7 linked regions of the Homo sapiens genome follow. The gene in region 1 interacts genetically with each later gene. Each region holds a gene or a part of one and is shown in the gene's direction. Other genes may lie near its edges.

Region 1 (3,898 bases):
TTCGCCTGCCTCGGCCTCCCAAAGTGCTGGGATTACAGGCGTGAGCCACTGTACCTGGCCTTTTGTGTTGTTTATTATGATTTTCATTTCTGAGTTAAGTTGCATTACTTTTTTTTTTTTTTTTTTTTTTTTTGAGACAGGGTCTTGCTCTGTCACCCAGGCTGGAGTGCAGTGGCATGATCCCAGCTCATTGCAACCTCTGCCTCCCAGGTTCAAGCGATCCTCCCACCTCAGCCTTCCAGGGATGTGGGACTACAGATGCACACCACCATGCCCAGCTAATTTTTGTAGAAACGAGGTTTCACCATGTTGCCCAGGCTGGTGTCAAACTCCTGGGCTCAAGTGGTCTGCCCACCTCGGCCTCCCGAAGTGCTGAGATTACAGACATGACCCACTGCACTGGGCGACATTACTTATTTGTTAATTAATGACCATTGCCTGGTGGCAGTGTAGAGGAGTGGCACAAACTAAAGTCCATAAAGTATATGTTAAATTATGAGGCATAAGTTCTAAACACTAGGAAATCAACAAAAAGGACCATTATGACAATAAGGAGTGACTTCATGGAGAGGGCGAGAGTTGATGAGGGTGAAAATGAGTAGATTTGGGATGAGTCTGCAGAATAATACAAGGTTAGAATGAGCTCTGTAGGAAGCACTGGAGTTTGGCTCAATAGAATGGAAGTTCTAGGTCAGGGACTAGTGGGAAGTAAGATTGGGTTTAGAGGAGCTTGAACAACTCTCTCAGAAATGCAGGGTAACAATCTTAAGAGTTAAAAAGAAATGTATGAAAACTCAGCCTTCCATTTAGAAAACAGTTCAAGGCTGGGCCTGGTGGGTCATGCCTGTAATTCTAGCACTTTGGGAGGCTGAGTGAGGCGGATCACCTGAGCTCAGGAGTTCGAGACCAGCCTGGCCAACATGGTGAAACTCCGTCTCTACTAAAAATACAAAAATTAGCCAGGCATGGTGGCATGTACCTGTAATCCCAGGTACTAGAGAGGCCGAGGCAAGAGAATCGCTTGAACCTGGGAGGCGGAGGTTGTAGTGAGCCCAGAGTACGCCACTGCCCTCTAGCCTGGGTGACAGAGCGAGATCCATCTCAAAAAACAAAAAGAAAAAGAAAACAGTAGGCCAGGCGTGGTGGCTCAAGCCTGTAATCCCAGCATTTTGGGAGGCCGAGGCTGGTGGATCACCTGAGGTCGGGAGTTCGAGACCAGCCTGACCAACATGGAGAAACCCAGTCTCTACTAAACATACAAAATTAGCTGGGTGTGGTGGCACATTTCTAATCCCAGCTATTTGGGAGGCTGAGGCAGGAGAATAGCTTGAATCCGAGAGGTGGAGATTGCGGTGAGCCGAGATCGCGCCATTGCAGTCCAGCCTGGGCAACGAGCAAAAAAAAAAAAAAGAAACAGAAAACAGTTCAGATGTCCTGTGAGTAAATGTTTTTCCCATCCAAAGAGAATCCATTTAAACATATACATTAACCATGCATTTTTCTATAGAAATTTAAATTATAAGTTACTGGAAATTGTAATATATCAATCCATGAAAGGAGTGTGATTTAAGATTTTCTTGGGAAAAAAAGGGGACTCATTAACACATACTACCATTTTTTAAATTTTTAGACAATGCAGATAGTAGTACACTCCATGCTGTAACCTTTCTTCGAACTCCTGAGATTCTTACTGTAAATTCAATTGGACAGTTGAAAATATGGGATTTCAGACAACAAGGAAATGAGCCTTCTCAGATATTGTCACTGTAAGTGTTGATTTGTAATTTCAGTAATGTAATCCACAAATTAATGTGTTAGGTTGTTTATAGCTACTGGCTTTAAGCCATATTGAATTTTAATTGCATTTTAAGAGGGAGATCCCTGATTAAAATTTGGTAGAGCAAGCATAACTTGACGGGGTTGGTACTACTATGCTTCATTTAGTAATTATTTGTTATAGTGATTCAGAGCCTTTACTCTTTGAAGTTTGTATTATTTCATGGAGAACTTATTTCTGCTCTTTCAATGATTGTTTAATGGATAAAATATACTCCAGATGTAATGATTGGGGGAAAAATATAATTCCAAATATTTTTTCTGAGCAGAAATCCCCCTTTGTAGGTGTACAACGTTCTCTCGTAAGAAAATAGAATGTGTCACACTGAAAAAATAGTTACATAAACTAAGCATTAAATAAGATGATAAATAATATTTAGTATATAATTGATGTATGAGTTTTTAAATAATTTAACAAGTGGAAATGTGATTTGTACATCTTACCATCGGATTGTCTTTCATTCCATGTCTCCAAATTGAAGTGAAAATGAATAATTGTGGCCTTGAATTATTTCAAAATTGTACTATTTAGAAATATATCTAATTTAGTTCATTTTTTTTGGTATCATTAAGATTCAGCCAGGCTGGGCGTGGTTGCTCATGCTTGTAATCCCAGCACTTTGGGAGGCCGAGGCAGGCAGATCACTTGAGGTCAGGAGTTCAATACCAGCCTGGCCAACACAGTGAAACCCCGTCTCTACTAAAAATACAAAAACTAGCCAGGCATGGTGGCACGTGCCTATAGACCCCGCTACTCAGGAGGCTGAGGCAGGAGAATCACTTGAACCTGGGAGCCAGAGTTTGCAGGAGAATCACTTGAACCTGGGAGGCAGAGTTTGCAGGAGAATCACTTGAACCTGGGAGGCAGAGTTTGCAGTGAGCTAAGATCGTGCCATTGCACTCCAGCCTGGGCAACAAGAACAAAACTCTGTCTCAAATAAAAAAAAGATTCAGCCAGTAGCTCCAGCCACTAAGTTGACACTTAGTTACCATATAAAACATGTTTCTTGGCTGAGCATGGTGACTCATGCCTGTAATCCCAACATTTTGGAAGGATTATCTGCGGTGAGAAGTTTGAGACCAGCTAGGGCAACACAGTGAGACCCCATCTCTACCAAAATTTCTTAAAATAGCCTGGCACGGTAGCATGTGCCTGTAGTCCTAGCTACTTGGGAGGCTGAGGCAAAAGGCTCTTTTGAGCCCAGCTTGCAGCAAGCTGTAGATAGGCCATTGCACTGTAGCCTGGGTGACAAGACAAGACCCTGTCTCTCTTTTTTTTTTTTTTCTTTGAGACAGAGTCTTACTCTGTCACCCAGGCTGGAGTGCAGTGGCATGATCTTGGCTCACTGCAACTTCTGCCTACTGGGTTCAGGCGATTCTCATGCCTCAGCCTCCCAAGTAGCTGGAACTACAGGCATGTGCCACCATGCCTGGCTAGTTTTTGTATTTTTAGTAGAGATGGGGTTTCGCCATTTTGGCCTGGTTGGTCTTGAACCTCAAGTCATCCACCTGCCTTGGCCTCCCAAAGTGCTGGGATTACAGGTGTGAGCCACTGAGCCTGGTCTCTTAAAAAATAAACAAAAAAAAACAGGCTGGGCACGGTTACCAGTCATCCCAGCACTTTGGAAGGCCAGGGTGGCTAGATCACTGGAGCCTGGGAGTTTGAGACCAACCTGGGCAACATGGAGAAACCCCATCTCTACAAAAATACAAAAAGTTAACCAGGCATGATGGTACACACATGTACTCCCAGCAACTCAGGAGGCTGAGGTGGGAGGATACCTGAGCCCAGGGAGTTTGAGCCTACAGTAAGCAATGATTGCAGCGCTGCATTCCAGCCTGGGTAAGTGAGGCCTTGTCTCAAAACAAACAAAAAACGTGTTTCCTGTGTTACACAAAGATAAATTATACTTTATTTGATTTTGACGTCATTGTTATCTCCCACAAAAGGACTGGTGACCGAGTGCCACTCCACTGTGTTGATAGACATCCCAACCAACAGCATGTTGTAGCTACTGGTGGCCAAGATGGAATGTTGAGTATTTGGGATGTTAGACAAGGT
Region 2 (4,432 bases), on another chromosome or scaffold:
CTCTTTTTTTTTTTTTTTTTTTTGAGACAGAGTCTAGCTCTGTTGTCCAGGCTGGAGTGGTGCAGTGGCGTGATCTCGGTTCACTGCAACCTCCGCCTCCAGGGTTCAAGCGGTTCTCCTGCCTCAGCCTCCCGAGTAGCTGGGATTATGGGCGCCCGCCACCACGCCCAGCTAATTTTTGTATTTTTAGTAGAGATGGGGTTTCACTGTTTTGGCCAGGCTGGTCTCGAACTCCTGACCTCATGATCCTCCTGCCTCAGCCTCCCAAAGTGCTGGGATTACAAGAGTGAGCCACTGCGCCTGGCCTTTTTCTTTGTTCTTATATTTTTGTCTTTTTTTTTTTTTTTTTTTTGAAACAGAGTCTCACTCTTTCACTGAGGCTGGAGTGCAGTGGCGTGATCTTGGCTCACTGCAACCTCCACCTCCTGGGTTCAAGCGATTCTCCTGCCTTAGCCTCCCGAGTAACAGGGACTACAGGTGCCCACCACCATGCTGGGCTAATTTTTGTATTTTTAGTAGAGGCGGGGGTTTCTCCACACTGGCCAGGCTGGTCTTGAACTTCTGACCTCAAAAGATCCACCCACCTCGGCCTCCCAAAGTGCTGGGATTATAGGCATGAACCACCGTGTCCGGCCATATATTTTCGTCTTTTGAAGACTGTTATATACATGAAATTATATGGTATGTAGCATTTTGAGAGCGACTTCTTTTGCTATGAGTAATACATTTGAGATTCATCCATATTTCTCAGTATATTAATAGTTCTTATTTCTGAGTCACTCCATTGTGTGGATTTACTACTGTTTGTTCCCCAGTTGAAGGATGTTTAGGATCTTTGCAGTTTTGGACAATTACAAGTAAAGCTGCTATAAACATTTGTATGCAACATTTTGTGTTTTCATTTATCTATAGTAAATACCTAGAGTTGGATTGCTGGGATATATGGTAAGCATATGTTTGACATTTTAAGAAACTTCTAAACTGTTTTTCAAAGTGGCTCTACCATTTCACATTCCCATCAGTATGAAAGTTTCATTTCCACATCCTCTCTAGTACTTGGGGGTGTCAGTTTAGTTTTTTAATTTTTAAATTTTTTAATTTTTTTAATACATTTAAATAGAGATGGGGTCTCACTGTGTTGACCAGGATGGTCTTGAACTGCTGGCCTCAAGTAATCCTCCCATCTCGGTCTCCCAAAGTGCTAGGATTACAGGTGTGAGCCACCATGCCCAGCCAGGTTTTTTGACATTAAGTATGTGGTGGTATCTCATCGTTTTTATTTGCATCCTCTAATGATTTGAGCATATTTTATATGCTTATTTGCTATCTACATATCTTCTTTGGCAAGGTGTTCACATCTCTTGCATATTTTGGATTGTTTTATTATTTTTGAATTTTGAGGATTATATGCTGGATACAGGGGTGTTTTTTTTTTTTTTTTTTTTTGAAACAGAGTCCTCACCCAGGTTGGAGTGTAGTGGTGCAATCTCGGCTCACTGCAACCTCTGCCTCCTGGGTTCAAGTAATTCTCATGCCTCAGCCTCCTGAGTAGCTGGAATTACAGGCGCAGGCCACCATGCTTGGCTAACTTTTATATTTTTACCAGAGACAAGGTTTCACCATGTTGGCAAGGCTGGTCTTGAACTCTGGACCTCAAGTGATACACCCGTCTTAGCCTCCCAAAGTTCTGGGATTACAGGCATGAGCCATTGTGCCTGGCCAGTATCTTGTCTTCTCATTCTGTAAACGGTGTCTTTTTTTCATTATGGGAAAGCTTTATTGACACATTTGTTTTTATTTTTAAAAATTATGGTAAAATACACAGAACATAAACGTTACCATCTGATATGGTTTGGCTGTGTCCACACCTAAATCTCGAATTGTAGTTCCCATAATCCCCACACATATGTACCACATTTTCTTTATCCAGTCTTTCGTTGATAGACATTTAGGTCGATTCCATGTCTTTGGTATTGTGAATAGTGCTGCAGTGAACATATGTGTGCATGTGTCTTTATGGCAGAATGATTTATATTATGCATAACCAAAACTGTACTTATTAAACAATAACCTCCCAACCCCTTCTGCCCACAACCTCTGGCGACTGCCATGCTACTTTCTGTCTCTGAATTTGAATACCCTGATAGTCATATAATATTTATCTTTTTGTGACTGGCTTATTTCACTTTGCATAATGTATTCAAGCTTAATCTGTGTTGTAGCCTGCGTCAGAATTTCTTTTCTTTTTAATGCTGAGTATTATTCTATTGTGTGTATATACCACATTTTATTTATCCATTCATCCACTGATGGACATGTGCATTGTTCCCACCTTTTGGCTATTGTGAAAAATGCTGTTATGAATATGGGTATGGAGATCTCTCCCCTTATTTTGAGACAGGATCTCACTGTCACCCAGGCTGGGGTGCAGTGGTGTGCTCATAGGTCACTGTAGCTTCGACCTCCTGGGCTCAAGCGAACCTCCCACCTCCGCCTCTTGAGTAGCTGGGACCACAGGCATGTGCCACCATGGCTGTTAAATTTATTAATTTGTTTTTCTATGGATCATGCTTTTTGTGTTACATCAGAGGAGTCTTTGCTTAACATGAGATGACAAAGGTTTTCTCCCATGTTTCCTCCTAAAAGTTTTATAGTTTTAGGTTTTACATTTAGGTCTATGATCCATTTTGAGTCAATTTTTGTATATGGTACAAGGTATGAATCTATGCTTTTTAAAAAAATATGGTTACCCAATTTTTCTAGCAGTATGTGCTAAAACTTTGCTAAAGTCACTTAGTTCTAGTAGCTTTTTTTGCAGATTTAACCAGACTTTCTACATAGACAATCATATCTTCTGTGAATAAACATGGTTTTATTTCTTCATGTCTAATATATATGTCTGCATTTTTTTTTTTGTCTTATTGTAGTCGCTGGGACTTCCAGTACTACACTGAGTAAGAGTGGTGGCCAGGTGCGGTGGCTCACGCCTGTAATCCCAGCGCTTTGGGAGGCTGAGGTGGGCTGATCACCTGAGGTCGGGAGTTTGAGACCAGTCTGACCAACATGGAGAAACCCCGTCTCTACTAAAAATACAAAATTAGCTGGGTGTGGCAGCGCATGCCTGTAGTCCCAGCTACTTGGGAGGCTGAGGCAGGAGAATCTCTTGAACCCAGGAGGCAGAGGTTGCAGTGAGCCGAGATCACACCATTGCACTCTAGCCTGGGCAACAAGAGCGAAACTCCATCTCAAAAAAAAAAAAAAAGAATGGTGAGCACAGGCATCCCTGTCTTGTTTCTGACTTTGGGGGAGAGTATTCTTTCTGCCTTTAACCATTAAGTATGTTAGATTTTTGTATTGCCCTTTACTAGTATGAGGTGCTAAGGGTTTGTTTTAGGAATGGATGTTAGATTTTCTTAAATGTTTTTATGCATCTATTGAAATGATTACATGGTTTTTCTTTTGTGGTTTGTTTTTAATGTAGTTTTAATAAATTATATTGATTGATTTTCTTATGATAAACCAATCCTGCATTCCTGTGATAAACCCCACTTTGTCATGATGTATTATTCTTTTTTTTTTTTTTTTGTGAGACGGAGTCTCACTCTGTCACCCAGGCTGGAGTGCAGTGGCATGATCTTGCCTCACTGCAACCTCTGCCTCCCGGGTTCAAGTGATTCTCCTGCCTCAGCCTCCTGAGTAGCTGGGACTACAGGTGCGTGCCACCACGCCCGGCTAGTTTTTGTATTTTTAGTAGAGATGGGGTTTCACCATATTGGCCAGGCTGGTCTCGAACTCCTGACCTTGTGATCCGCCCGCCTCAGGCTCCCAAAATGCTGGGATTACAGGCATGAGCCATTGCACCCAGCCTATTCTTTTAATAAATTGTTGGGAAGTTATATTAGTTTCTATTGCTGCTGTAAAAAATTAGCACAGACTTTGTGGCTTAAAACAACACAAATCTATCATCTTACACTTCTAGAGGTGAGAGGTCCCAAATGAGTTTCACTGGGCCAAAATTGGTGTTGTCAGGGTTACACTCTCTCCAGAGACTCTAGGGGAGAATCCATTTCCTTGCCTTTTTCAGCTTCTAGAGGCTGCTTAGATTCCTAGAATAATGGCTTCTTTCCTCATCTTCAAAATAACTATGTAGTATCTTTTTTTTTTTTTTTTGAGACGGAGTCTCACACACTGTCGCCCAGGCTGTTGTGCAGTGGCACGATCTCCGCTCACTGCAACCTCTGCCTCCTGGGTTCAAGTGATTCTCCTGCCTCAGCCTCCCAAGTAGCTGGGATTAGAGGCATGCGCCACCATGCCCGGCTAATGTTTTGTATTTTTAGTAGAGATGGGGTTTCACCGTGTTGGCCAGGCTGGTCTTGAACTCCTGACCTCATGATCCATCTGCCTGGGCCTCCCAAGGTGCTGGGATTATAGG
Region 3 (4,646 bases), on another chromosome or scaffold:
TAGCTTTATAGTTAGAATCAATACTTAGGTCTTCCTCTCTTAAGGAAAAGTGGGACTCTTAAGCGCTTTATTGTCTTACATGAAACAGGAAATTATAAGGATAAACCCTCTAAAAATCTCAGTCATGTCACAAACGTTAAGTTCTTTCTCAAATGATTCCATAAATGGTTTAAGATCTTGATAGCAAATGAGTCTATAAGTTGCAGAAATTGGCAATTATATTAATCACAGAACAGTAAAGACCCTTGTTCATAGAGTTCTTGATGGGGTTTTGCACTTATCTGGGTAATAAAGACATGAATTTCTATAATCTATAACAATGCTTCAATAATACTCATACCTAGAAGCTGCAGCCCATATAAGTGGACAGATTGCTAGCTCCCTGTGATTCCTGTGGTGATAATTTGCCCAAGAAACTGGATTTGAAAGGTGTTGCAATGTTGGTGTTAACTAATATTAAATGCCATTTTTCTATATAAGGAGGAAATATGCATCTTTTCTATTATTGCAAACACCTTGTATAAATTGTATTAATCTTTTACAAAGTTCTCTACAAAGAACAGTTACAAAAGTTTAATCTATCCAAAATGTGTATGAGTAATGTGTAATGAGTTACTGTGTTAAAAATAACGTGTTTTCTAGATTACCAGACTAGAAGCTCCCTGAGTGCCCGGAGTACATCTGTCTTGTTCACTGGGTTCTTTGTATACAGTAATTGTGTTTCAGTACCTTGAGTATTTACCAGGTTGGACTTCATTGACTGACTGGTTAAATGACATGTGCAGTATGATAACGAAAGCTAAGAGTTTCTCAGTTTAAGTTATACAACAGTTCTCCCCTGACCCCCAACCTCTACCAGCCTTATTTTCCTGGTAAATACGTTCTAAGATCCACAGTGGATACCTGAAACAATGGATATTACTATATCCTATCTATACTATGTTTTTTTCTATATGTATATACCTATGATGAAGTTTAATTTATAAGTCAGGGACTGTAAGAGATCAACCACAACAATAATAAAGTAGAACAGTCATTACAGTATGCCATCATCACTACTCTTGTGCTTTGGGGCTATTATTAAGTAAAATAAGAGTTACTTTGAACACTGACACTGCCATATGTGGACAGTTGATCTACTACCCGAGACAGTTACTAAATGACTAATGGCAGGTAACATATGCAATGCAAATATTTGTTGACCAAAGGGATGATTCATTTTCCAGGCAGGACAGAGTGGGACAGTGCGTAATTTCATCACACTACTTAGCGCACAATTTAAAACTTATGAATTATTTCTGGAATTCTCCATTTTTATATCTTTGGACAGTGATTGACTCAGTTGACTGGGGGTAACAAACCCTCAAAAGCAAAACCTTGGATAAGTGAGGGACTACTGTATATATACACACAGTTGTTTTCAGACGGCTTCTGTCGCCTAGGCTGGAGTGCAGTGGAGCAGTCACGGCTCACTGCATCCCCAACCTCCCAAGGGCTCCCTAGTAGCTGGGACTACAGGTGTGTGCCACCATGCCCAGCTAATTTTTTATTTTTAGTAGAGACGAGGTCTTCCTATGTTGCCCAGGATTGTCTTGAACTCCCGGGCTTAAGCAGTCTGCCTGCCTTAGCCTCCCAAAGTGCTGGAATTACAGGTGTGAGCCACCGTGCCCAGCCGTTATACAGACGGTTACATGCAGGTGTGTGTGTATATATATATATATATATATATGTACACACACAGTCATGTGCACACACATGCACACAGTCACGTGCACACAAACACAGTCGTGTCATTTAACAATGAAGATGGGCATTGTTAGGCGGTTTTGTTGTGTTATCATAGTGTGTTTACACAAACTTAGGTGGCATAACCTACTACATATCTAGGCTGTATGGTATAGTCTATTGTCCCTAGGCAACAGATCTGTTGGGCGTGCTACTGTAGGCAGTAGTAACACAATGGGAAATATTTGTGTATCTGAACATCAAAATGATGACTGTGCCACAACATTTGTATATACTATGTGTATATACTATGGCCCTCACTATAGTAATTTCTTAGGATAAAATTGCCTGTCTTGGTTCACTTTAGTTTGGGCTCTGTAAGGCATAGAGTACATATTGATACTCCAATATATTTATTTTACCTATAGTATAAGTAAGGTAGAAAATTTAAAATGATATCTTTGCACTTAAATTGTATGTTTTTATAAGAGCGGTTTTGGATGGGAAATCCAAGTTTTTAAACTTCATTTGGAGGAATGACGATTTTCAATGACAAAAACTGAGAAACTGGTCTAAATGTACAACGTACATTACAAGACAATAGAAGGGGGAGGTTCTAGTAATCTTGCTCCATTGCCAAGTCCCACTAAAATTATATTAAATGAATTAAAATATAATTTATTTTGGTACCTTGTGTTAGAAAACAAAATGTGTAGTATATTTAGTATTTAACTTTCCTTAAATACTAAATCTTAGTCTGATGCTGGAACCTCACATGTTAATAAATAGCACTGTCTTCTGACCCAGAAGCTTCTGCAGTAAAAAATGACTGTCCCAGATAAAGGTTAATTTTCTACCCTGATATCCCTAGAGTTAAAGTTTGTGACCTTCCTGGCCAAGAATGTAAAGATTATGGTAAATTTTAAGTTCCCATGTTTACCTAAAACAAAAATCCCCCAGCCAAGCAACAAACAGCTAGCTTTGTTATTTCTAACATCTTGTCAGTTTTTGAACAGGCCTTAAAAATAATGATTTTTTTTGTTGTTGGCGGGGAGACAGGGTCTTACTCTGTTGCCCAGGCTGAAGTGCAGTAGTGCGATCAGGGCTCACTGCAGCCGCGACCTCCCAGACTCTGGTGATTCTCCCACTTCAGCTTCCTAAGTAGCTGAGACTACAGGTGCGGTGCACACCACTAATTTTTGTGTTTTTTGTAGAGATGGGGTTTCATCATGTTGCCCAAGCAGATTTCAAGCTCCTGAGCTCAAGCTATATGCCTGCTTTGGCCTCCCAAAATGCTGGGATTACAAGTGTGAACCACCATGCCCGACCTGTTACTCTTTTTATATCCTTGTTTACTTCCTGTATCCTGGGAATCTGTACCTTTACCTCAAAACTCATTTTGCTATTAGTTTGTGTATAATATTAATACAAAACATTCACACGTGATTATACTTTCACGGAGGAATCTAGCAGCCAACTGTGGAATCTATCAGCCAGCTGTTTCATTTTTAATTGAGGCAGCACTGAAGAGTCATGCAATTCCAAATAAAAATCTGGGTTTCAGAGTCCTCTTGAAAATGTGGAAGATCTGACAACACAGTGCTTGCAACTGTCAAGGAAGTTAATCTTCTGGAGTTGAGTAGGATTGTCCCCTTTAGCTTTCCTCCTCTTTCCCAAAGTATTATATACGGTATACTAAAACTAGTTTGATGTTCCTGTGCCTTAGTGTATTAAACTGAGCCTTGGGTTTTTTCAAGTTTAAGATCAGTGTTATGCAGGGGTTGCAGATGTGTGTGCATGCCAGAATCTGGCAGATAAAGATAAAGTACTTGCTTAATACGTTAGGTATCATGAGTTTGTTTTTTTTTTTTTTTAAGAGCCAGCATGCTCTTTGTTCAGGTAGTAATACTGATTCACCAGATACAAACTCATTCACCAGATACAAACCCAGATTGTCTCATGCAAAACTTTGACATATGTTACCTTCTCTGTGTCTTAACAGAAGACTAGACTCTTCCAGCTGGTTGTTTTCAGGTGAGAATCTGGGCCCCTAATAATCAAATAGTATTTTTTTAAGTGGGTTTTCATATTAAATCCTTAGAATTTTTAAAAACAGCATTCAAGAGCTGAGTTTATCCTCTAGACTGCTAGTGTAAAACTTTTAGATAGATTTGAATTTTAGCTCTAAATGTAAATACTGTTTAATGTAGGATTGTTTCATTAAGCTTATTTCTTGAACTGGCACATTATAAAAAAATCCATCTTTTTGTGACATCTTAATTTTGGAACAAAATTTTATAGATTTTAACCTGAGGTCAGGAGTTCAAGACCAGCATGGCCAACATGGCAAAACCACTTCTCTACTAAAAATATAAAAATTTAGCTCGGCGTGGTGGCAGGTGCCTGTAATCCCAGCTACTTGGGAGGCTGAGGCAGGGAGAATTGCTTGAACCTCAGAGGCGGAGGTTGCAGTGAGTTGAGATCATGTCACTGCACTCCAGCCTCGGCAACAGTGAGACTGTCTCAAAAAAAAAAAAAATTTTTTTTTTTTTTTTTTTAAAGATTTTAAGTGATTTTTTAAGGCCGGGCACGGTGGCTCATGCCTATAATCCCAAGACTTTGGGAGGCCAAGGCAGGTGGATCACCTGAGGTCAGGAGTTCGAGAACAGCCTGGACAACATGGTGAAACCCTGTCTCTACTAAAAATAACAAAAATTAGCTGGGCATGGTGTGGCGGGCCTCTGTAATCCTAGCTACTCGGGAGGCTGAGGCAGGAGAATCACTTGAACCTGGGAAGTGGAGGTTGCAGTGATCCCAGATTGCGCCACTGCACTCCAGCCTGGGTGACAGAGAGAGACTCTGTCTCCAAAAAAACAAATTAAAAAAAAAGTGATTTTTAATGTCTATAGTTCTCTATATAG
Region 4 (4,646 bases), on another chromosome or scaffold:
TTTTTTTTAAGATGGAGTCTGTCGCCCAGGCTAGAGTCTTGTTACCCAGCTGGAGTGTGGTGGCGCAATCTTGGCTCACTGCAGCCTGTCCCTCCCGGGTGCAGGCATTTCTCCTGCCTCAGCCTCCTGAGGGACTGGGATTACAGATGCCCACCACGACACCCGGCTAGTTTTTGTATTTTTATTAGAGACGGGGTTTCACCATGTTGTTAGCCAGGCTAGTCTCGAACTCCTGACCTCAAGCGATCCGCCTGCCTTCATCTCCCAAAGTGCTGGGATTACAGGTGTTAGCCACCGCGCCCAGCCCCGGAAAGTTTAATTAACTGATCAGAGTGACACTACCAGCCAGGCAGAAAGGGGACAAGACTCCAGGTCTGTGACTCTCAGGACAGTGCTCCTTCCACAGGGATCCAGATTGCCTCATCCCACAAACATGTTTGCTGAGCACCAGCTATTTGCTGGGCCAGTGAATTCGGATCATTCCTGGCCTTCATGGAGCTAGGCAGTCTGAAGGGGAAGACTGACTTAGGGGAAATTTGATTATAAAGTGTCACAGGTGTGGGACAGACAGACAGATGTGGGGCCTTGGAAGCATTGAGGAGGGGAGGTGGTGTTACAGCTGGTTCTAGAAGATGAGTGGGTAAGAGCTAAGATAGGAACTTTGTTCCAGCCAGAGGACAAAGAACCCTGGGAGGTGAGAGCAAGTGCAAGCAGGAACATTCAGGCCTGATCTTGATGGCCCAGCCTGAGAGAAAGCAGGAGAGAGGGCAGGGTGGGATCGGAGAGAGGGCAGGGTGGGATCAGAGAGGCCTTGAGTGCCACTCCACCCTGAGGCGCCCTTTGCCTTTAATTATGCTGGTTCCCACTGGCATTTGCGGGAAGGACTCAGAGCTTCAGAATAGCGTACCATCACCACAGTTAGGGAAGGTTCTTCCCATCCTTGTCTCCTGAGCTGCATAAACTGTGTCACACTGGGTCTTAGAATAAAAATTCCATGAGGGCAGGAATTTTAGGCTGTTAAACCAGTTCTTGGCACATAGTAGACATTCAGTAAATATTTGCAAGATGAATAAAAGGCAGTATTTTCCCAAGATATCATGAGGTCCTTCAAGATTTTTACTTGTTCATTCCCGTCTTCATAATGAACTGTCCTGCTTCCTACCAGGTCTTCAGGAACCAGCTTTGCAGCAGGAGCCGTGCGTCTTTCCATGCCTGGTGCCATGAAACAGGCAGGGCCAAGCGTGCCTCCCTTTTTTTTTTTTTTTAAGACAGAGTCTCAGTCTTTTGCCCAGGCTGGAGTACGGTGGCACAAGCTCAGCTGACTGCAACCTCCACCTCCCAGACTCAAGTGATTCTCGTGCCTTAGCCTCCTGAGTAGCTGGAATTACAGGTGTGCACCACCACACCCAGCTAATTTTGTATTTTTAGTAGAGATGGGGTTTCACCATGTTGGCCAGGCTGGTCTCGAATTCCTGGCCTCAAGTGATCCACCCACCTCTGTCTCCCAAAGCGCTGGGATTACAGGTGTAAGCCACTACGCCCAGCCCTAGAGTGCCTTCCTTTCTGTCAATCTTTATTGTTTTATTTTTATTTTGAGACAGGGTCTCACACCATCACCCAGGCTGGAGTGCAGTGGCACAGTCACGGCTCACTGCAGCCTTGACCTCCTGGGCTCAGGTGATCCTCCCACTTCAGCCTTCTGAGTAGCTAGGACGATAGGTGCCTGCCCCCACACCCGGCTAATTGTTTTGTTTTTTTTGTAGAGTCAGGGTTTCACTGTGTTGCCCGGGCTGGTCTTGTTCTCTGGGACTCAAGCGATCTGTCCACCTCAGCTTCCCAAAGTGCTGGGATTATAGGCATGAGCCATCGCACTTGGCCTATTGTTTTATTTTCATTACAAAAGTAATTCGTGCTTCTGGTAACAGATCTTTAAGAAATACAGCCATATATAAATCAAAAAGTTGCAGTCACTATATCATTTGAATGTTTTTGAATCAGGTAACAGAAAACTTAACCTCAGTAGCCTGAATAATATGGAAATGTGTTATTTTTAATGCTGACAACACCGTGAGGTAGGTGCCCTCGCAGTCCTCATTTTTCTTTGGAAGCAAAAGAGGCTCAGCGAGGTGAAGAGCCTTGCCCCGGGGCCAGTCTTGGCACTCGAATTAGATTTTAGCACTGCTTCCAAGGCCCACGCTCTGTCCCCTAATTCTGGTGCCTTCACTTTGATTTTGGCTTCCTTAGCCCAGAGTAAACTGCCAGCCCCTCTCACTCTCCCCCTCCTCCTTCCTGTCTGCAGCTCCAGAAAGCAGTGGGGCCTGAGATCACCAAGACAGACCTGGTCCCTGCCTTCCAGAACCTGATGAAAGACTGTGAGGCCGAGGTGAGGGCCGCAGCCTCCCACAAGGTCAAAGGTTGGTGCTGGCAGCCGGAACACAGCAAGTGGGGTGGGTATCCAAGGGGCTGGAGGTGGAACTAGCACATCAGGTCTCACTTCCCTTTGCCTCCCTCTCCCTGCCCACAGAGTTCTGTGAAAACCTCTCAGCTGACTGTCGGGAGAATGTGATCATGTCCCAGATCTTGCCCTGCATCAAGGTAACAGAGAGTTTGATGGGAGGAACCAAGTGGATCCGAGCCTGCCAAAAAGAGGGGCTGGAGACAAGGCTTTGGGGATAGTCAGCTGCAAACTAGGTTCCCAGCCCTCTGGGACCAGGCAGCTCTTGGGTTTCAAGCAGTTAGGGGTCCTGACTGCAGCTTGAGGCTGACCTTAAAGGTGGAAGTACTTTCTAGAACCTCAGATGTCACTGAGTCCTGTCATTCACAGGGTTTTGGGGTTGGAGTGGGGGCTGCTGAGAGCAGGGGTCATTGAACTCTTAAGTAGGTGGTACTCATAAGGAATAGTGATTTCCCCTGTACCCTAAGCCATCCCCTGCTCTATGAATGAGAGGGGCAGAAGCAGGTTATTGTCTCTTAGGAGTTGGCATCTGCTTAGCCACTTGCTGCTGCAGGGGTTGCACTGACCCCTGTGCCTGCCTCTTCTCTCTCCCAGGAGCTGGTGTCCGATGCCAACCAACATGTCAAGTCTGCCCTGGCCTCAGTCATCATGGGTCTCTCTCCCATCTTGGGCAAAGACAACACCATCGAGCACCTCTTGCCCCTCTTCCTGGCTCAGCTGAAGGATGAGGTAAGGGCACCAGGATCTCAGCTCTGGGTTTGTGGAGGGGACAGGCGGGTCTTCCTAGATTGCTAGGGTTTACCTAGATTGACCAGGAATCTGCTGATATCTCAACAGACATCCAGATCTTTGCTGAGTTGCATGTTTGTGGGCATAGCTGTGTGTTCATGCGTTCATTCCTCCAGGCACTCTTCATGAGGCCTTTCCTGGACATGGAGGATATGAAAAATAGAAATTTAAAGTTTTTATTTATGGCCAGGCGCGGTGGCTCACGCCTGTAATCCCAGCACTTTGGGAGGCTGAGGCGGGTGGATCACCTGAGGTCAGGAGTTCGAGACCAGCCTGGCCAACATGATGAAACCTCGTGTCTGCTAAAAATGCAAAAATTAGCCAGGCATGGTGGCGAGTGCCTGTAATCTCAGCTACTCGGGCAGCTAAGGCAGGAGTATCACTTGAACTCAGGAGGCAGAGGTTGCAATGAGCCAAGATTGCACCACTGCACTCCAGCCTGGACAACAGAGCAAGACTCTGTCTCAAAAAAAAAATTATTTATTTATGTTTTGAGATAGGGTCTTGCTCTATTGCCCACACTGCAGTGCAGTGATGTGATCATGGTCTACTGCAGCCTCCACCTTCCAGGCTCAAGTGATCCTCCCACCTTAGCCTCCCAAGTAGCTGGGACTACAGGCAAGAGCCACCACATCTAGATAATTTTAAAAAACATTTTCCATAGAGACAAGATATTATGTTGCCCAGGTTGGTCTTGAACTCCTGATCTCAAGCAGTCCTTTTGCCTTGGCCTCCAAAGGCCTGGGATTATAGGCGTGAGCCGCTGCCCCCAGCCTAGAATAAGAGTTTTGATCCCCAAAAGCCTTCAGAGACTGGCAGTGGAGAGAGACAGGCAGTCCCATGATGCCATTAAGGTGTTACAGGTGCTGTTAAGGATGAGTTCATGTTTTTTAGGGTTTAGGCTAAGGTGCTCTAATATAGACCCCAGAATACATTCTGGCTTAAATTCGGTGGTGGATTTTTTTTCTCTCTCTCATAACAGTCTAGGACGAGATTCCTCACATGTGCTTGCACCCCATACACCCATTGGCCAGGAGGGTCACGTGACCACACCCAGCAGTTCAGGTTGCCTGTATTACAAAGGATGAGAGGCGGTGCTGGGTGATGACTGGAGAGATCATCAGGGTGACCACTGGGGAAGGAGTTTGGACTTGACTGTGGGCAAGCGGAAGAGCCAGAATAGAGTTGGTGTTAGAAGGCACCCTGAGGCTTATGTGAAGGAAGGATTGAAGTGAGGTGGCCAGCAGCAGTGTAGGCAGACCAAACCGGAGGCTGTGGGAGTCTGGAAGGCTGAGGCTAGACTAAGTGGTATGTAGAGATGAGGCTGCATTGATACGGAAGGATTCAAGATTGTTCAGGAGGCAGAAGGGACCACGTGGTGGTTTTTGCCTTGGTGGTGAAA
Region 5 (3,810 bases), on another chromosome or scaffold:
GGGTCTCCGGCGTTTTGCATTTCCTCTGGTGTGTGGATATCTGGGGTCCTTTGAGATGGGGAAGTGACAGGCTTCAGTGGGAGAAACAAATTAAAGTCCTTGTAACTTCTCCCCACAGAGCCTGTTTCAGGGCAGTAGTGATGGAGTGGAGGTTCGATATGATTTACTGGATTGTCATATCAGCATCTGTTCTCCTCAGGTGAGCTCTTTAGGGCTGGGGCTGCACACCCAAAGAGTAGAACTCTGTGGGTCTGTTATTGTCCCCTTAGAAGGCCAGGGTATATTTCTTCTCCCTGTTTATTTTCATTATTTTTACTTTTATTTTTTGAGACAGAGTCTCGCTCTGTTGCCCAGGCTGGAGTGCAGTGGTGTGATCCCAGCTCACTGCAGACTCTGCCTCCTAGGTTCAAGTGATTCTCCTGCCTCAGCCTCCTGAGTAGCAGGGATTACAGGCACACCACCATGCCTGGCTAATTTTTGTATTTTTAGTAGAGATGGGGTTTCACCATGTTGGCCAGGCTGGTCTCGAACTCCTGGTCTCAAGTGATCTACCTGTCTCAGCCTCCCAAAGTGCTGGGATTACAGGCATGAGCCACCACACCTGGCCTTATTTTCATTTTTATTTATATATATTTTTTGAGACAGGGTCTCGCTCTGTGGCCCAGGCTGGAGCACAGTGGCACCATGACTGCTCACTGCAGCCTCAGCCTCCCAGGTTCAAGGGAACCTCCTGCCTCAGCCTCCTGAGTAGATGGAACCACAGGCATGCACTACCACTAATTTTTGTATTTTTTTGTAGAGACGGGGTTTTGCCATGTTGTCCGGCCTGGTCACGAACTCCTGAGCTCAAGCAATCTGACCACCTCAGCCTTCCAAAATGCTGGGATTACAGGCATGAGCCACCAGTTTTTTTTGTTGTTGTTGTTGTTATTGTTGTTTTGAGATGGAGCCTCGCTCTGTCGCCCAGGCTGGAGTGCAGTGGCATGATCTCAGCTTACTGCAGCCTCCACCTCCTGGGTTCCAGTGATTCTCCTGCCTCAGCCTCTCAAGTAGCTGGGACTACAGGTACGCACCACCACATCCGGCTATTTTTTGTATTTTTCAGTAGAGATGGGGTTTCACCATATTGGCCAGGCTGGTCTCTAACTCCTGACCTCAGGTGATCCTCCCGCCTTGGCCTCCCAAAGTGCTGCAATCACAGGTGTGAGCCTCTGCACCCAGCATTTTTTTTTTTTTTTTTTTTTTTTTTTTGAGTCGGAGTTTCACTCTTGTTGCCCAGGCTGGATGCAATGGTGCGATCTCAGCTCACTGCAACCTCCACCTCCCAGGTTCAAGCAATTCCCCTGCCTCAGCCTCCCAAATAGCTGGGATTGCAGGCATGTGCCACCACACCCAGCTAATTTTTGTATTTTTAGTAGAGACGAGGTTTTACCATGTTGGTCAGGCTGGTCTCGAACTCCCAACCTCAGGTGATCTGCCTGCCTCGGCCTCCCAAAGTGCTGGCATTACGGGCATGAGCCACTGCACCTGGCCTTTTTTTTTTTTTTAGAATCTATTGTAAAGCAAAGATCTTGTCTCCAGTATCCCACTGGGAGTCTCTTTGGAATTCTGGTCCATGTTCAGCTGTCATAGGGTTTGCTAGGTCTCTGGGGGATTATCTGTGCTCCTAGAGAATAGTACTTAATCCTGGCCAAGCGTGGTGGCTCACGCTTGTAATCCCAGCACTTTGGGAGGCCGAGGTGAGTGGATCATGAGGTCAGGAGTTCAAGACCAGCCTGACCAACACAGTGAAATCCCATCTCTACTAAAAAATAAAAATACAAAAATTAGCTGGGCGTGGTGGCGGACGCTTGTAATCCCAGCTACTTGGGAGGCTGAGGCACAAGAATCACTTTAACCCAGGAGGTGGAGGTTGCAGTGAGCCGAGATCATGCAACTGCACTCCAGCCTGGGCAACAGAGCTAGACTTGTCTCAAAAAAAAAAAAAAAAGAATAGTACTTAATTCTAGCCCACTCCACTTCCCTTCCACAGGTGGCACAACTCTTTACAGACAACTTTGACTACCAAACTCGAGATGACTTTGTGCGAGGTCTCTTAGTGAATGAGGAGGTGAGAAAAGTCTTCCAATGCCTCTTTAGGAGAGAGGAGAAGGCTATGATTGTATCTCATGCTGGTAACTTTTGATCTTTTTTGTATTTTATTGAGGCTTAGGAGGGAGGAAAAGCAGGGGACAGGAGGAACAGTACACAAAGAAGAATCTTTGTGGCAGTGAGAGGCAGAGGGGAACTTAAAAGGATTAGAAAAGTTGTACTTGGGGGCATTCTTCCTGTCTTTCTTGCTTAGGTGACCTCCCTTTCCTTCTCATTCAGATCCTAGGGAACCAGATCCACATGCACGTAACAGCTAAGGAATATGGTGCCCGTGTCTCCAACCTACACATGTACTCAGCTGTCTGTGCTGACGTCATCCGCCGATGGGTCTACCCTCTCACCCCAGAGGCGAACTTCACTGACAGCACCACCCAGAGCTGCACTCATTCCCGGCACAACATCTACCGAGGGCCTGAGGTCAGCCTGGGCCATGGCAGCATCCTAGAGGAAAATGTGCTCCTGGGCTCTGGCACTGTCATTGGCAGCAATTGCTTTATCACCAACAGTGTCATTGGCCCCGGCTGCCACATTGGTGAGCACAGGTGGGGAATCAAGCCAACTATCCTAGGAACAGGAACCTGGGGGGGCCACGTCTCCAGAAACACAAGGGATGGCTACACAAGGGACAGTCCCTGGGAATAAGGAACTATAGAGCGGCTACCTCAGGAAAGGAGGAAACAGGGATTTGAAAACAGCGATACCTTAATTTGTAGCCTGTGGGCCTCTCATTGGATGACTCTTCACATTCCAGGGTACCCTGTAGTCACATTCAGGAGCAAGTAGATAATTAACATGCAGTAACAACATCTATTTAGCACATTACAGTTTACAAAGGGCTTTTATATACATTGTTACATTTAATCTTCATAATTTACAAATAAACAGGCTCAACAAGATTTTCTTGCCCAAGGTCATTGGTAATAATGGTGGGACCTGAATCTGGGTATTCTGAATGTAAGTCCAGTGTTCTTTTGAGTCTACCATAACTGCCTGGTTGGCCTCTTGGTATCTCATTTTGGTTGCAGGAGTGTGATGCGTCTAATAGTACTGCCCCTTTCCAAGAACAACAGTAAGGCTCAGATTCTAGGGGCTGAGCGTGGTGGCTCATGCTTGTAATCCTAGCACACTGGGAAGCCATGGTGGGAGGATCGCTTGAGCCCAGGAGTTCAAGACCAGCCTGGGCAACATAGCGACACCCCTTCTCCACAAATGATACAAAAATTAGCTGGGCATGATGGCGCGTGCCTGTAATCTCAGCTATTCGGGAGGCTGAGGCAGGAGGATTACCTGAGCCCAGAGGTCGAGGGTGCAGTGAGTCATGATCATACTACTGCACTCCAGCCTGGGTGATGGAATGAGACCGTGTCTCAAAAGAAAAAAAAGACTTGGTTTCTAAAATGTACCAGAAGAGGTGGAATTATTTGGTTCTGCTTGTAGGCGTGGATATGATTCTAATAAGGTTTTTTGAGTTCAGAGGGTCCCCAGAAATCCTGAAGGTTCTCGGGTTCTTAAGCTCTGTGTGTAGTCTATAATTGTTGTAAACTTGGTGAAGTATCTTCTCAGGCCTGGGCTTAGGGGGTGAGTGGGTGTTTCTGGTGACTTGCGGGATGGGGAATGAGAGCTAGGTGGGAGCTGTGCTGGTGTCAGTCAGCCCTGTCC
Region 6 (4,584 bases), on another chromosome or scaffold:
GGTCTTATGGTGGTTCTCCTGCCAGAGGTGGTTGGGTTTCATTTTTATTAAAAAAGTGAAAATAGCTGTTGTAATTAGACCTGTCTTGTTCTTGATTAGGTTTAAACTGGTCTCTCCAAGCTGCATCTGTCATAATGAATACATCTTGACACTTTCCTTGGACTGGGAGCACTGGCCCCATACGGAAAGGCTGCTGGTGCAGGCAGGAGTCTGAACCTGCCCTTCTCCTCAGATGGCTTCCTTGCCCCGTTGGTTCTCAATTTCCTCATCTGAGGGGTTGGCTTGCGAAGCCTCTGTAGTGTGGTTCTTTGTTCATTTTGAGCTTCAGCTCTTTGCTTGTGAAGGATTTTATTCTTGGCTTTTGGTGGTGTCAACACATTATGGGTTAATGCTACTATTAAAATTTGTCTCTAATGCATGAAGCTACTTCATTGAAAGAGGAATTTTTGATATAGTATTCATGGTCATTATAAGGATAGCAGATTTGGTCCAGCTTATTGGCAGAGTTAATAATATACTTTCCACTTCAGTGATTATACTGTAGAAATTAACATCTCAATTTTGTTTGAAACTTTCCCATTTCAGACAACATGCCAATTTGGCTGGCACGCTGAGCGGCCATGCCTCCTGGGTGCTGAACGTTGCATTCTGTCCTGATGACACTCACTTTGTTTCCAGGTACTTAATGATTCTTAGCAGTTTCTAAAATGCTGGGGAGATGAGAGCAGTCTTCTTGTATAGATTGCCTTAACATTTAAAGATGTTTGACCCTTTTTTATTCAGTTAGCCTTTCTTTTCTGCAGTTCTTAAAATTTTTATTTAGTGATGTTAGTTGACCTTAGCTGGAACAAAAGTCAACAAGTAATCCTTTTAAACAGTAAAACTCTTAGTTTTTTCATTATAAATTGAGGCTTCTACCAAAGTGACTCTAAGGTAGACTTGTGTTCCAATGGTAACTTAAAATATGTAAATGTTTGTAAAATGTTGTTTATAGATCCCAGTGTTGGTCAGGCCTGGGATGGCCAAGACAGTTGGAAAGCAGGAGATGGACAACTTGAAGGCATTGCACAGTGCTTTAGAGGCCTCCTGCGAGCCTTGGTTTTGAAGCTTTAACAGGCCTCCCTCCCATCTGGAAATAGGTAGCTGTGTCTGAGACTCCTGGAGAACAATTAATATGAGGGCCAGGCAGATCACAATTTCAGGAAAATGGCTACCCTGTGAGGAGAGAAAGCCACCCAATGATGCTGATACCTGGCCATTTCCTGTACCGAGGCATGGGGTTGGGGGGTCTGAAGTTAGAAGAATGTAAGTCATCAAAGGATTTTTGGTCGAAGTCCTTCCAACTTCAAACCGATACTAATGTTCACTTTTTAAAATAGTTCGTCTGACAAAAGTGTAAAAGTTTGGGATGTTGGAACGAGGACTTGTGTTCACACCTTCTTTGATCACCAGGATCAGGTATGGCATTATTATTTCATCTTTAGATAGTCGGGGTTGTTTGACCATTGTACCAAAGAGATTTTCTTTTCCTGACCTTGTTGCTTGAGCTGTGGATACCAGTAGATGCCTGGGCCTGAGCTGCTCTATCTGCTCAGTCATCCATGTAGCCAGAGTTCCTGTGCAGAGTCTGGGGTGCAGAGGCTGGGATGTGCTGTCAGCCTAGCAACTCACGAGGCATATCCCCACATAGGCTGGAAAACATGGTGTTAGCCCCACAGCCTTTAAATGCCGTCTTTGGAAATTGCTGCAGCTGGTGTCTGGGGCCCTCTCCTGGGGGCTGCTGCGCCATGGCAGGCTCACCAAGGACCTTCCTCTTCAGGAGATTCCATTGCTTAAACACAATCATCGCTTGTCATTTTTGGGACTGTCCAAAGAAGAGATGTGATTTTTTTTTTTTTAATATAGTAGAAGCTGGAAATTCATACAAGTTTTTTGGCTTTAGTGTTATTGATAACTTTTCAGTCTTTAAAAGGAAACTGTTCTCACAAGCAACTTTATCTTTGCCAAGGTGAATATGTGAAATAGCAAAGGTGTTCTAGTGCAATACTGCTGAGTCTTTCATGTGTGCTCGTATCCCCTGGGAACCTGGTGAAAATGCAGATGCTGCTTCACTAGGTCTGGCAGAGGGCCTGGGATTCTGCATTTCTAACAGGCTTCCAGGTGAGGCCAAGGCTGCTGGTCCTAACCACACTGTAAGGTCTTGGGGAACTGAGCATAAAAAATAAAATGTCCATGGCAATATAATATTGGCTTTTAATATATTTTAAATATTTTTAGATGGTCCTATAGATTTCTCCTCTTTGAAATGGAACTTAAAGTTAACTAACATTGTTCATGCTTATTTTTCAACTTAAATTGTCCCAACAAAATTGAGGGGGTTCTATCTTGATATTCCACTTCTGGATTTAAGCATCTTACTCAGGGAGTAAGTCCTGGCTAGCTGTGTTTCCTTGTATGTATGGATCATTGCGGTGCTGTGTCAGAGGCTGGAGTGAAAGGCCATCATGCAGCCCAATCCCAACACTAAAATCAGAGTAGGGTGACAGGCTTACCACCCAGAATCACCTCCTAATAATCAGGAAGTTATTTATGATTAGAGAAACTCCAACCACATCAATTCTGTCTGGGAAGGAGGTGTGAATCAGTTAATTTAACACATAGCAAATAAAAATCTATGGTCCACAATATCATGTTGTCTAGCTCCTGGGGACAGGCAGGCTCCATAGGCCACTAATAACAGAGTGAGAATTACTGACTGTGGGGGGCGGACACAAGGGGTCAGCTGAGGAGCGCAGTTTGTGACTTTCCCTATAGGCAGTGACCTCGGGGTAGTTGTGGGGCTCTTTCTTCCTGGAAGCATAAATGTTGGTCTCTTATGGCTTCCGTCTTCCTGGCATTAGGTTACACTTCAGGATTCTGACTCTTTGAAAGGGTTGTAGATAGTCTTGATTAGTACTGTATTTAAAAATGATTTTTTTTTTTTTTTTTGGAGTATGGGAAGGGGCAGGAATTCTAATTAAATAGCAATAATGGAAGGTGCTCGGTTAAAGCCTCCATTCTCACTGATTTAGAAAGTACAAGAACATCCTCATCTCAGTTTTGGTAGATTCAGAATAACGAGAAAATAAGGATGTTCATTTCATAAATATTATAAAGAATAAAGGCATTTGTAGAACTATCTTTTTTTAAATTTACAGGTCTGGGGAGTAAAATACAATGGAAATGGTTCAAAAATTGTGTCTGTTGGAGATGACCAGGAAATTCACATCTATGATTGTCCAATTTAAACATCAAAGTCTCCAGGCTTATGCTGCAAAGAGAATGTACGGATTGATCATGACATTCCTTACCTTCTTAGGCTTGTTTAAAAGAAATATAGCATTTATTGTAGCAAAGACTTAAATTTTGTAGATACAATATGAATCTTTTCATGTTTTATTGGAAATGCTGTTCATACTTTAACATAAAGCTTTCTTAATGCAAACACTGGTGTCCTTGAACATGCTTCTTTTTTCAGTTACCCTATTACCAGTGAAACAGTGAGAGGGATTGGCATTAAGAGCAAATCTCTGCCTTAGCCATCAAGAGATCCAGGTATTTCTTTAACTTTCCAGCTTAGAAATACAGGCTGACTCTTCCAGGGAGTTGACTTATGCAGTGAGATACAGCAGCGAGCTCCCCGGAGCTGTGATAAAGAAGCTAATCTATTTTAGAATGGAGTCCTGAAGGAAAGAGTATATTTGACTGCATAGGAACATTATGTACTCCTGTCTATCTGGGCATCCTTCCACTTGATGTATTAAAGATGTCCCCTGCCAAGCCCTCCTTCCCCTTATTAATTTCAGAGAGGTCTCTAACTCGCTAGGTGGGTATCGGAAGGCAGGCTGCTATTCTTGCTGCCTTAACAATGCCTAGGCTGAAGCCTGTGCCTCATGCTGTAGAACTGTAGCCCTGCCTTAGTTATTTCAGAGTATCTGTACCTCAGAGTTTCCTCTTCATCAGCCCCCTTGAGACTCATGTTAATGAGAAAGATGTAAGTAGCTGAACACTTGGAAGCGTGTTTTTTATTGATCATTACTTCATATGCTTATGAGTCAGGTCATGTGCTTTTCCTCAAACCACTCACTGCCCTCAGAATAAAGCTCACACTCTTTATCATAGCCCCCCACTTCTCCCTCCTGCTTGCCTTGCTCACCCTCCTGTAACCACATCATCCTTGCCATTCCTCTGCCTGGAATGTTTTCCCTCCAGACCTTCGGACATCTGCTCCCCAGCTGCATCCAGGATTCTGCCCAGATGCCAGCTCCTGGTAGAGGCCTTCTTCCCATTCCCTTCTACTCATTCCCATTCCTCTTGTTCTTCATAGCAGTTACCACTTTTTGTTTGCATTCACCCCCACCCCCAAAATAAAGCTCCATGAGGGTGGAAACTTCATTCCATTATGTCAACCAATGAGAGGCAAGCTGGCAGGCACCTAACACTGTTTATGTGAGCTCTCAAAAAAAGGAAAAAGCAAAGCCACTTATCTCTCATACCAGCTCAATTTTAATTTTAAAGTGACAAATGTACAGGTGGAATAAAATT
Region 7 (4,646 bases), on another chromosome or scaffold:
CTATGTCACCCCGGCTGGAGTGCAGTGGCATGATCTTGGCTCACTGCCACTTCCGCCCCCAGGTTCAAGCTATTCTTCTGCCTCCGCCTCCCGAGTAGCTGGGACTACAGGCATGCACCACCATGCCCAGCTAATTTTTGTATTTTTAGTAGAGACAGGGTTTCACCATATTGTGCCCAGCTTTTTTTTTTTTTTTTTTGAGGAGTCTCACTTTGTCACCCAGGCTGGAGTGCAGTGGCGTGATCTCGGCTTGCTGCAGCCTCCGCCTCCCAGGTTCAAGTGATTCTCCTGCTTCAGCCTGCTAGTAGCTGGGATTACAGGTGCCCATCACCAGTTCCAGCTAAGTTTTGTATTTTTAGTAGACATGAGGTTTCACCATGTTGGCCAGGCTGGTCTCGAGCTCCTGACCTCAGGTGATCAGCCCGCCTCGGCCCCCTAAAGTGCTGGGATTACAGGTGTGAGCCACCGCACCTGGCCTTATTTGCAGCTATCTATAAATCTAATTATTTCAAAATACTTTTGGTTTATTTGTTTGTTTGTTTGTTTGTTTTGAAACAGGGTCTCACTGTGTCACCCAGGCTAGAGTGCACTGGCACGATTTTGGCTCACTGCAACTTCTGCCTCCCAGGCTCAAGTGATCCTCTCACCTTAGCTCCTGAGTAGCTGGTACTACAGGCATCCGCCACCATGCCCGGCTAATTTTTGTAGAGACAGGGCTTCACCATGTTGCCCAGGCTGGTCTCGAACTCCTGAACTCAAGCAATCCACCCACCTAAGCTTCCTAAAGTGCTGGGATTACAGGCATGAGCCACCACGGCTAGCCTCAAAATACATTTGTGAAAAATTATCGCTTGTTGGAAATTGAATTTTTAACTTACATAAACATCTTTCTGATGAGCTCCAAGAACATTTCTATGACTACAGTTTCTACATGTTTGTATTATGCTAAGAGTTATTTCTTATCGCTTTTTTAGGTGGAATTGAGACTGGATCTATCACAGAAATGTTTGGAGAATTCCGAACTGGGAAGACCCAGATCTGTCATACGCTAGCTGTCACCTGCCAGGTGAGCTGTTGGGGCTATAGCTAATCAAATAAGCAAGCATTACTTCATTCCTGCTATTTGCAAGCATCTGTTAGGATGGCCATAAAAGGTACTTTCTCTGTCCTCAAGAATCTTATAGCTGTTAATAGTTAGAAGATAGACTCCTACTTCAAAATCCTTCCATGTCATAGAAACTTCCAAATCATTGATCTCCTATCAGATACGTTAATTTCAAATACTTTTGCTACCAGGCCTTTTCCTGGCTTTACTTGCTACTTTTTTTTTTTTTTTTTTTTTTTGAGGCAGAATCTCGCTGTGTCGCCCAGGCTGAAGTACAGTGGTGTGATCTCAGCTCACTGCAACCTCCTCTCTGGTTCAAGTGATTCTCCTTCATCAACCTCCCGAGTACCTGGGATTACAGGCGCCCACCAGCATGCCCGGCTAATTTTTGTGTTTTTAGTAGAGAGGGGGTTTCACCATGTTGGCCAGGCTCCTCTTGAACTCCTGATCTCAAGTGATCCACCCACCTTGGCCTCCCAAGTGCTGGAATTATAGGCGTAAGCCACTGCGCCCAGCCCTCCATCTTCTTCATTAGTCTAGATTTTATGATTCATCATTAAAGTAATTCTCTTGCAGATAGCCTCAGTTTACATACCCACTTGAAGAGATGCCAACCTTAGATGAAACTCATCTATCTTCTCAGTGTCTGTACCCAAATAGCTGATTATACTGGAGAAAAATCGTATCATACAGCTGACTGACTTCACTTTAAATTCAAGATGACAGGCCAGGCACGGTGGCTCACGCCTGTAATCCCAGTACTTTGGGAGGCCGAGGCGGGTGGATCACTTGAGATCAAGAGTTTGGCTGGGCGCGGTGACTCACGCCTGTAATCCCAGCACTTTGGGAGGCCGAGGTGGGCGGATCACAAGGTCAGGAGATTGAGACCATCCTGGCTAACACAGTGAAACCCCATCTCTACTAAAAATACAAAAAATTAGTTGGGCGTGGTGGCGGGTGCCTGTAGTCCCAGCTACTTGGGAGGCTGAGGCAGGAGAATGGCGTGAACCCGGGAGGCACAGCTTGCAGTGAGCCGAGATTGCGCCACTGCACTCCAGCCTGGGCGACAGAGCGAGACTCTGTCTCAAAAAAAAAAAAAAAAAAAAAAAAAAAAAGAAGAAGAAAAAAAAAAGATCAGGAGTTCAAGACCAGCCTGGCCAACATGGTGAAACCCTGTCTCTACTAAAAATACAAAAATTAGCTGGGCGTGTTGGCACGTGCCTGTAATCCCAGTTACTTGGGAGACTGAGGCAGGAGAATCGCTTGAACCCGGGGGGCAGAGGTTGCAGGGAGCTGAGATCGCACCATTGCATTCCAGCCTGGTCAAAGAAGCGAGACTCTGTCTCAAAAAAAAAAAAAAAAAAAAAAAGAATGAAAAAAGGAAAAAAATTCAAGATGACAAAACTTTAGATTAACATTCAAAACTTCTTGGCAGTCTACTTTCTCCATTTAGGTGTACTTTCCCACTGAGTTAGACAGGCATCTCATATCTCATACTTCGTCTTCTGTTATCAGAACTTTATGCTCCTCTTCAACTCTCATTCTTAGCCAAAAACCTAACCTGCTCTTTGCATCAAATCTACATTTGTGCCCATCTTTTCTTATCTCAGGTTACAATTGAGAAAGTGTCCCTTTTCTTCTCAAAGGCCCATTCTATCAATATGATTTGGTTACCATCTCCTGCCACCTTCTCAAGGACTCTACTCCTTCCATTTTCTCTTGTACCTCTCTATGAGATTATCCTCATCAGTATACAAATATGTCTAGTGTCTCCTCCATTAGGAAAAAACCTTCCCTGGACCCCTTCAGTTTCTTTTTCCTTTACTTATGCTCCTATTGGTGGGAAGATTTGGAAATAGACACAGTAGGTTAAATAATTGCCCAATACATTGTATTTAAGTAGCAAATACTGGACTCAAACCAGACTTCAGAGATGATGTTCTTAAAACTTCATAAGAGGCCAGCATGGTGTTTCATGCCTGTAATCCCAGTACTTTGGGAAGCCAAAGTGGGAGGATTGCTTGAGACCAGGAATTTGAGACCAGCCTGGGCAACATAGTGAGACCCTGTTTCTGAGATGCCATTTCTAAAAACAAACAAACAAAAACAGACAATTAAAAATATTAGCCCAGCATGATGATGTGTACCTGTGGTCCTAGCTACTCAGGAGGCTGAGGTGGTAGAATCTCTTGAGCCCAAGAGGTCGAGGCTCCAGTGACTGGGATCGTGCCACTGCATGTTTTCTGCTGTATTGCTAGTGCCTAAGGCAGTGTTTGGCTCTCAGTAAACAATAAATGCTTGAATGAGTGGAGATAATAGATGTCCAAAAACATGCCTGATATATAAAATGAATGTCACAGAGGAAATGGGTTAGCTGTTTAAGGAATAGAAAGGGGTAATTTCACCCTAGAGTGATCATGGAATACTTTATGGAGAAAAGATTTTGGACCAGACTTCTGAAGAATGCTAAATTTGGGAAGGAAGGAAATTAAAAGCATTTAACTGTATAGAATGGGATGAACAGAGGATGGGAAGGCATAAGTTAGAAGGAAAAGACAATAAATAAGCAAGGTCATTTAACTGGTTTAGAGTTTGTGTAGAAAAGTTGTAGGAGATGACCCTTAAAAAGATACATCAAACTGGGCATGATAGCTCACACCTGTAATCCCAGCACTTTGGGAGGCCACGGTGGGTGGATCGCTTGAGCTCAGGAGTTTGAGACCAGCCTGGGCAACATGGCAAGACCCTATCTCTACAAATAATATAAAAATTAGCCAGACGTGGGCTGTGCCTGTAGTGGCAGCTACTTGGGAGGTGGAGGCGGGAGAATCGCTTGAGCCCAGGAGGCCAAGGTTGCCATGAGCCAAGATTGTACCACTGCTCTCCAGCCTGGGCAACAGAGCAAGATTTTGTCTCCATCTCAAAAAAAAAAAAAAAATTAAGATCCTATTTCAGAAGGTTAAGAAGTTTAAACTTGATTTTATGAAGAGTAAGCATTAGCTGGTCAGGAAACTAAGATAGTGACAATAAAGAGAAGTAGGGAAAAGATGTTGTAAAGGGCAGCGCTTGATGACTGACAATAAAAAATACACCTCAGCCCAACAATGTATTACAGTAACTTAGTAAACCTAAAAAGTGTTTGAGAGGGGAAGACAGTTTTGTTGGAAACATGAGTACAGGTTTAGAGATGACAGGTTTGAGGTGACAAACCCCGAGTGAAAATTTCTAGCTGTATTGAGAGATGTGGAACTAAGTCACACAGAGAAGTAAAAATGGAATCTGGAAACGAAAGATCCATGAGAAAGGAAGGGAGTAGGATATAGAAGAGAAAGCTAACAAACTTTCATCTTTTCTGCAACTTCAGGCAGTGTAATGGGGAGCCGTTTTTCCTTGTCTAAGTGAGTCTTAATGTTCTCTGGCTTTAAGGATGTGCTGCATAAGTGGCCAGTCCACAAAGTATCCTTGAACCTGGCCCATGCCCATGGACCAACTCTTCTGTTATAATCTTTTGAAGCTTTATTATAATTTTAGTTATTTTGAA

What was found.
Region 2: changes in NUP43 (region 1) and GNL3L together harm fitness more than expected from each alone (negative genetic interaction), as found in Homo sapiens cells (one large-scale study listed by BioGRID).
Region 3: changes in NUP43 (region 1) and YTHDC1 together harm fitness more than expected from each alone (negative genetic interaction), as found in Homo sapiens cells (one large-scale study listed by BioGRID).
Region 4: changes in NUP43 (region 1) and PPP2R1A together harm fitness more than expected from each alone (negative genetic interaction), as found in Homo sapiens cells (one large-scale study listed by BioGRID).
Region 5: changes in NUP43 (region 1) and EIF2B5 together harm fitness less than expected from each alone (positive genetic interaction), as found in Homo sapiens cells (one large-scale study listed by BioGRID).
Region 6: changes in NUP43 (region 1) and SKIC8 together harm fitness more than expected from each alone (negative genetic interaction), as found in Homo sapiens cells (one large-scale study listed by BioGRID).
Region 7: changes in NUP43 (region 1) and RAD51 together harm fitness more than expected from each alone (negative genetic interaction), as found in Homo sapiens cells (one large-scale study listed by BioGRID).

What each region holds. Positions count from the first base shown.
Region 1 is NC_000006.12:149,736,511-149,740,408, reverse strand, and holds part of NUP43 (nucleoporin Nup43), read left to right. Parts: intron 1-1,630; coding exon 1,631-1,766; intron 1,767-3,786; coding exon 3,787-3,898. UniProt on the Homo sapiens protein: Component of the Nup107-160 subcomplex of the nuclear pore complex (NPC). The Nup107-160 subcomplex is required for the assembly of a functional NPC.
Region 2 is NC_000023.11:54,564,400-54,568,831, forward strand, and holds the end of GNL3L (guanine nucleotide-binding protein-like 3-like protein), read left to right. Parts: 3' UTR 1-2,890; downstream 2,891-4,432.
Region 3 is NC_000004.12:68,343,162-68,347,807, reverse strand, and holds part of YTHDC1 (YTH domain-containing protein 1), read left to right. Parts: intron 1-4,646. UniProt on the Homo sapiens protein: Regulator of alternative splicing that specifically recognizes and binds N6-methyladenosine (m6A)-containing RNAs.
Region 4 is NC_000019.10:52,213,480-52,218,125, forward strand, and holds part of PPP2R1A (serine/threonine-protein phosphatase 2A 65 kDa regulatory subunit A alpha isoform), read left to right. Parts: intron 1-2,299; coding exon 2,300-2,414; intron 2,415-2,524; coding exon 2,525-2,595; intron 2,596-3,049; coding exon 3,050-3,184; intron 3,185-4,646. UniProt on the Homo sapiens protein: The PR65 subunit of protein phosphatase 2A serves as a scaffolding molecule to coordinate the assembly of the catalytic subunit and a variable regulatory B subunit.
Region 5 is NC_000003.12:184,138,048-184,141,857, forward strand, and holds part of EIF2B5 (translation initiation factor eIF2B subunit epsilon), read left to right. Parts: coding exon 1-28; intron 29-118; coding exon 119-199; intron 200-848; exon of another isoform or gene 849-877; coding exon of another isoform or gene 878-892; intron 893-2,032; coding exon 2,033-2,110; exon of another isoform or gene 2,111-2,168; coding exon of another isoform or gene 2,169-2,174; intron 2,175-2,370; coding exon 2,371-2,683; intron 2,684-3,810. UniProt on the Homo sapiens protein: Acts as a component of the translation initiation factor 2B (eIF2B) complex, which catalyzes the exchange of GDP for GTP on eukaryotic initiation factor 2 (eIF2) gamma subunit.
Region 6 is NC_000015.10:78,282,135-78,286,718, reverse strand, and holds the end of SKIC8 (superkiller complex protein 8), read left to right. Parts: intron 1-585; coding exon 586-678; intron 679-994; coding exon of another isoform or gene 995-1,058; exon of another isoform or gene 1,059-1,379; coding exon 1,380-1,458; intron 1,459-3,197; coding exon 3,198-3,287; 3' UTR 3,288-3,484; downstream 3,485-4,584. UniProt on the Homo sapiens protein: Component of the PAF1 complex (PAF1C) which has multiple functions during transcription by RNA polymerase II and is implicated in regulation of development and maintenance of embryonic stem cell pluripotency.
Region 7 is NC_000015.10:40,708,051-40,712,696, forward strand, and holds part of RAD51 (DNA repair protein RAD51 homolog 1), read left to right. Parts: intron 1-974; coding exon 975-1,066; intron 1,067-4,646.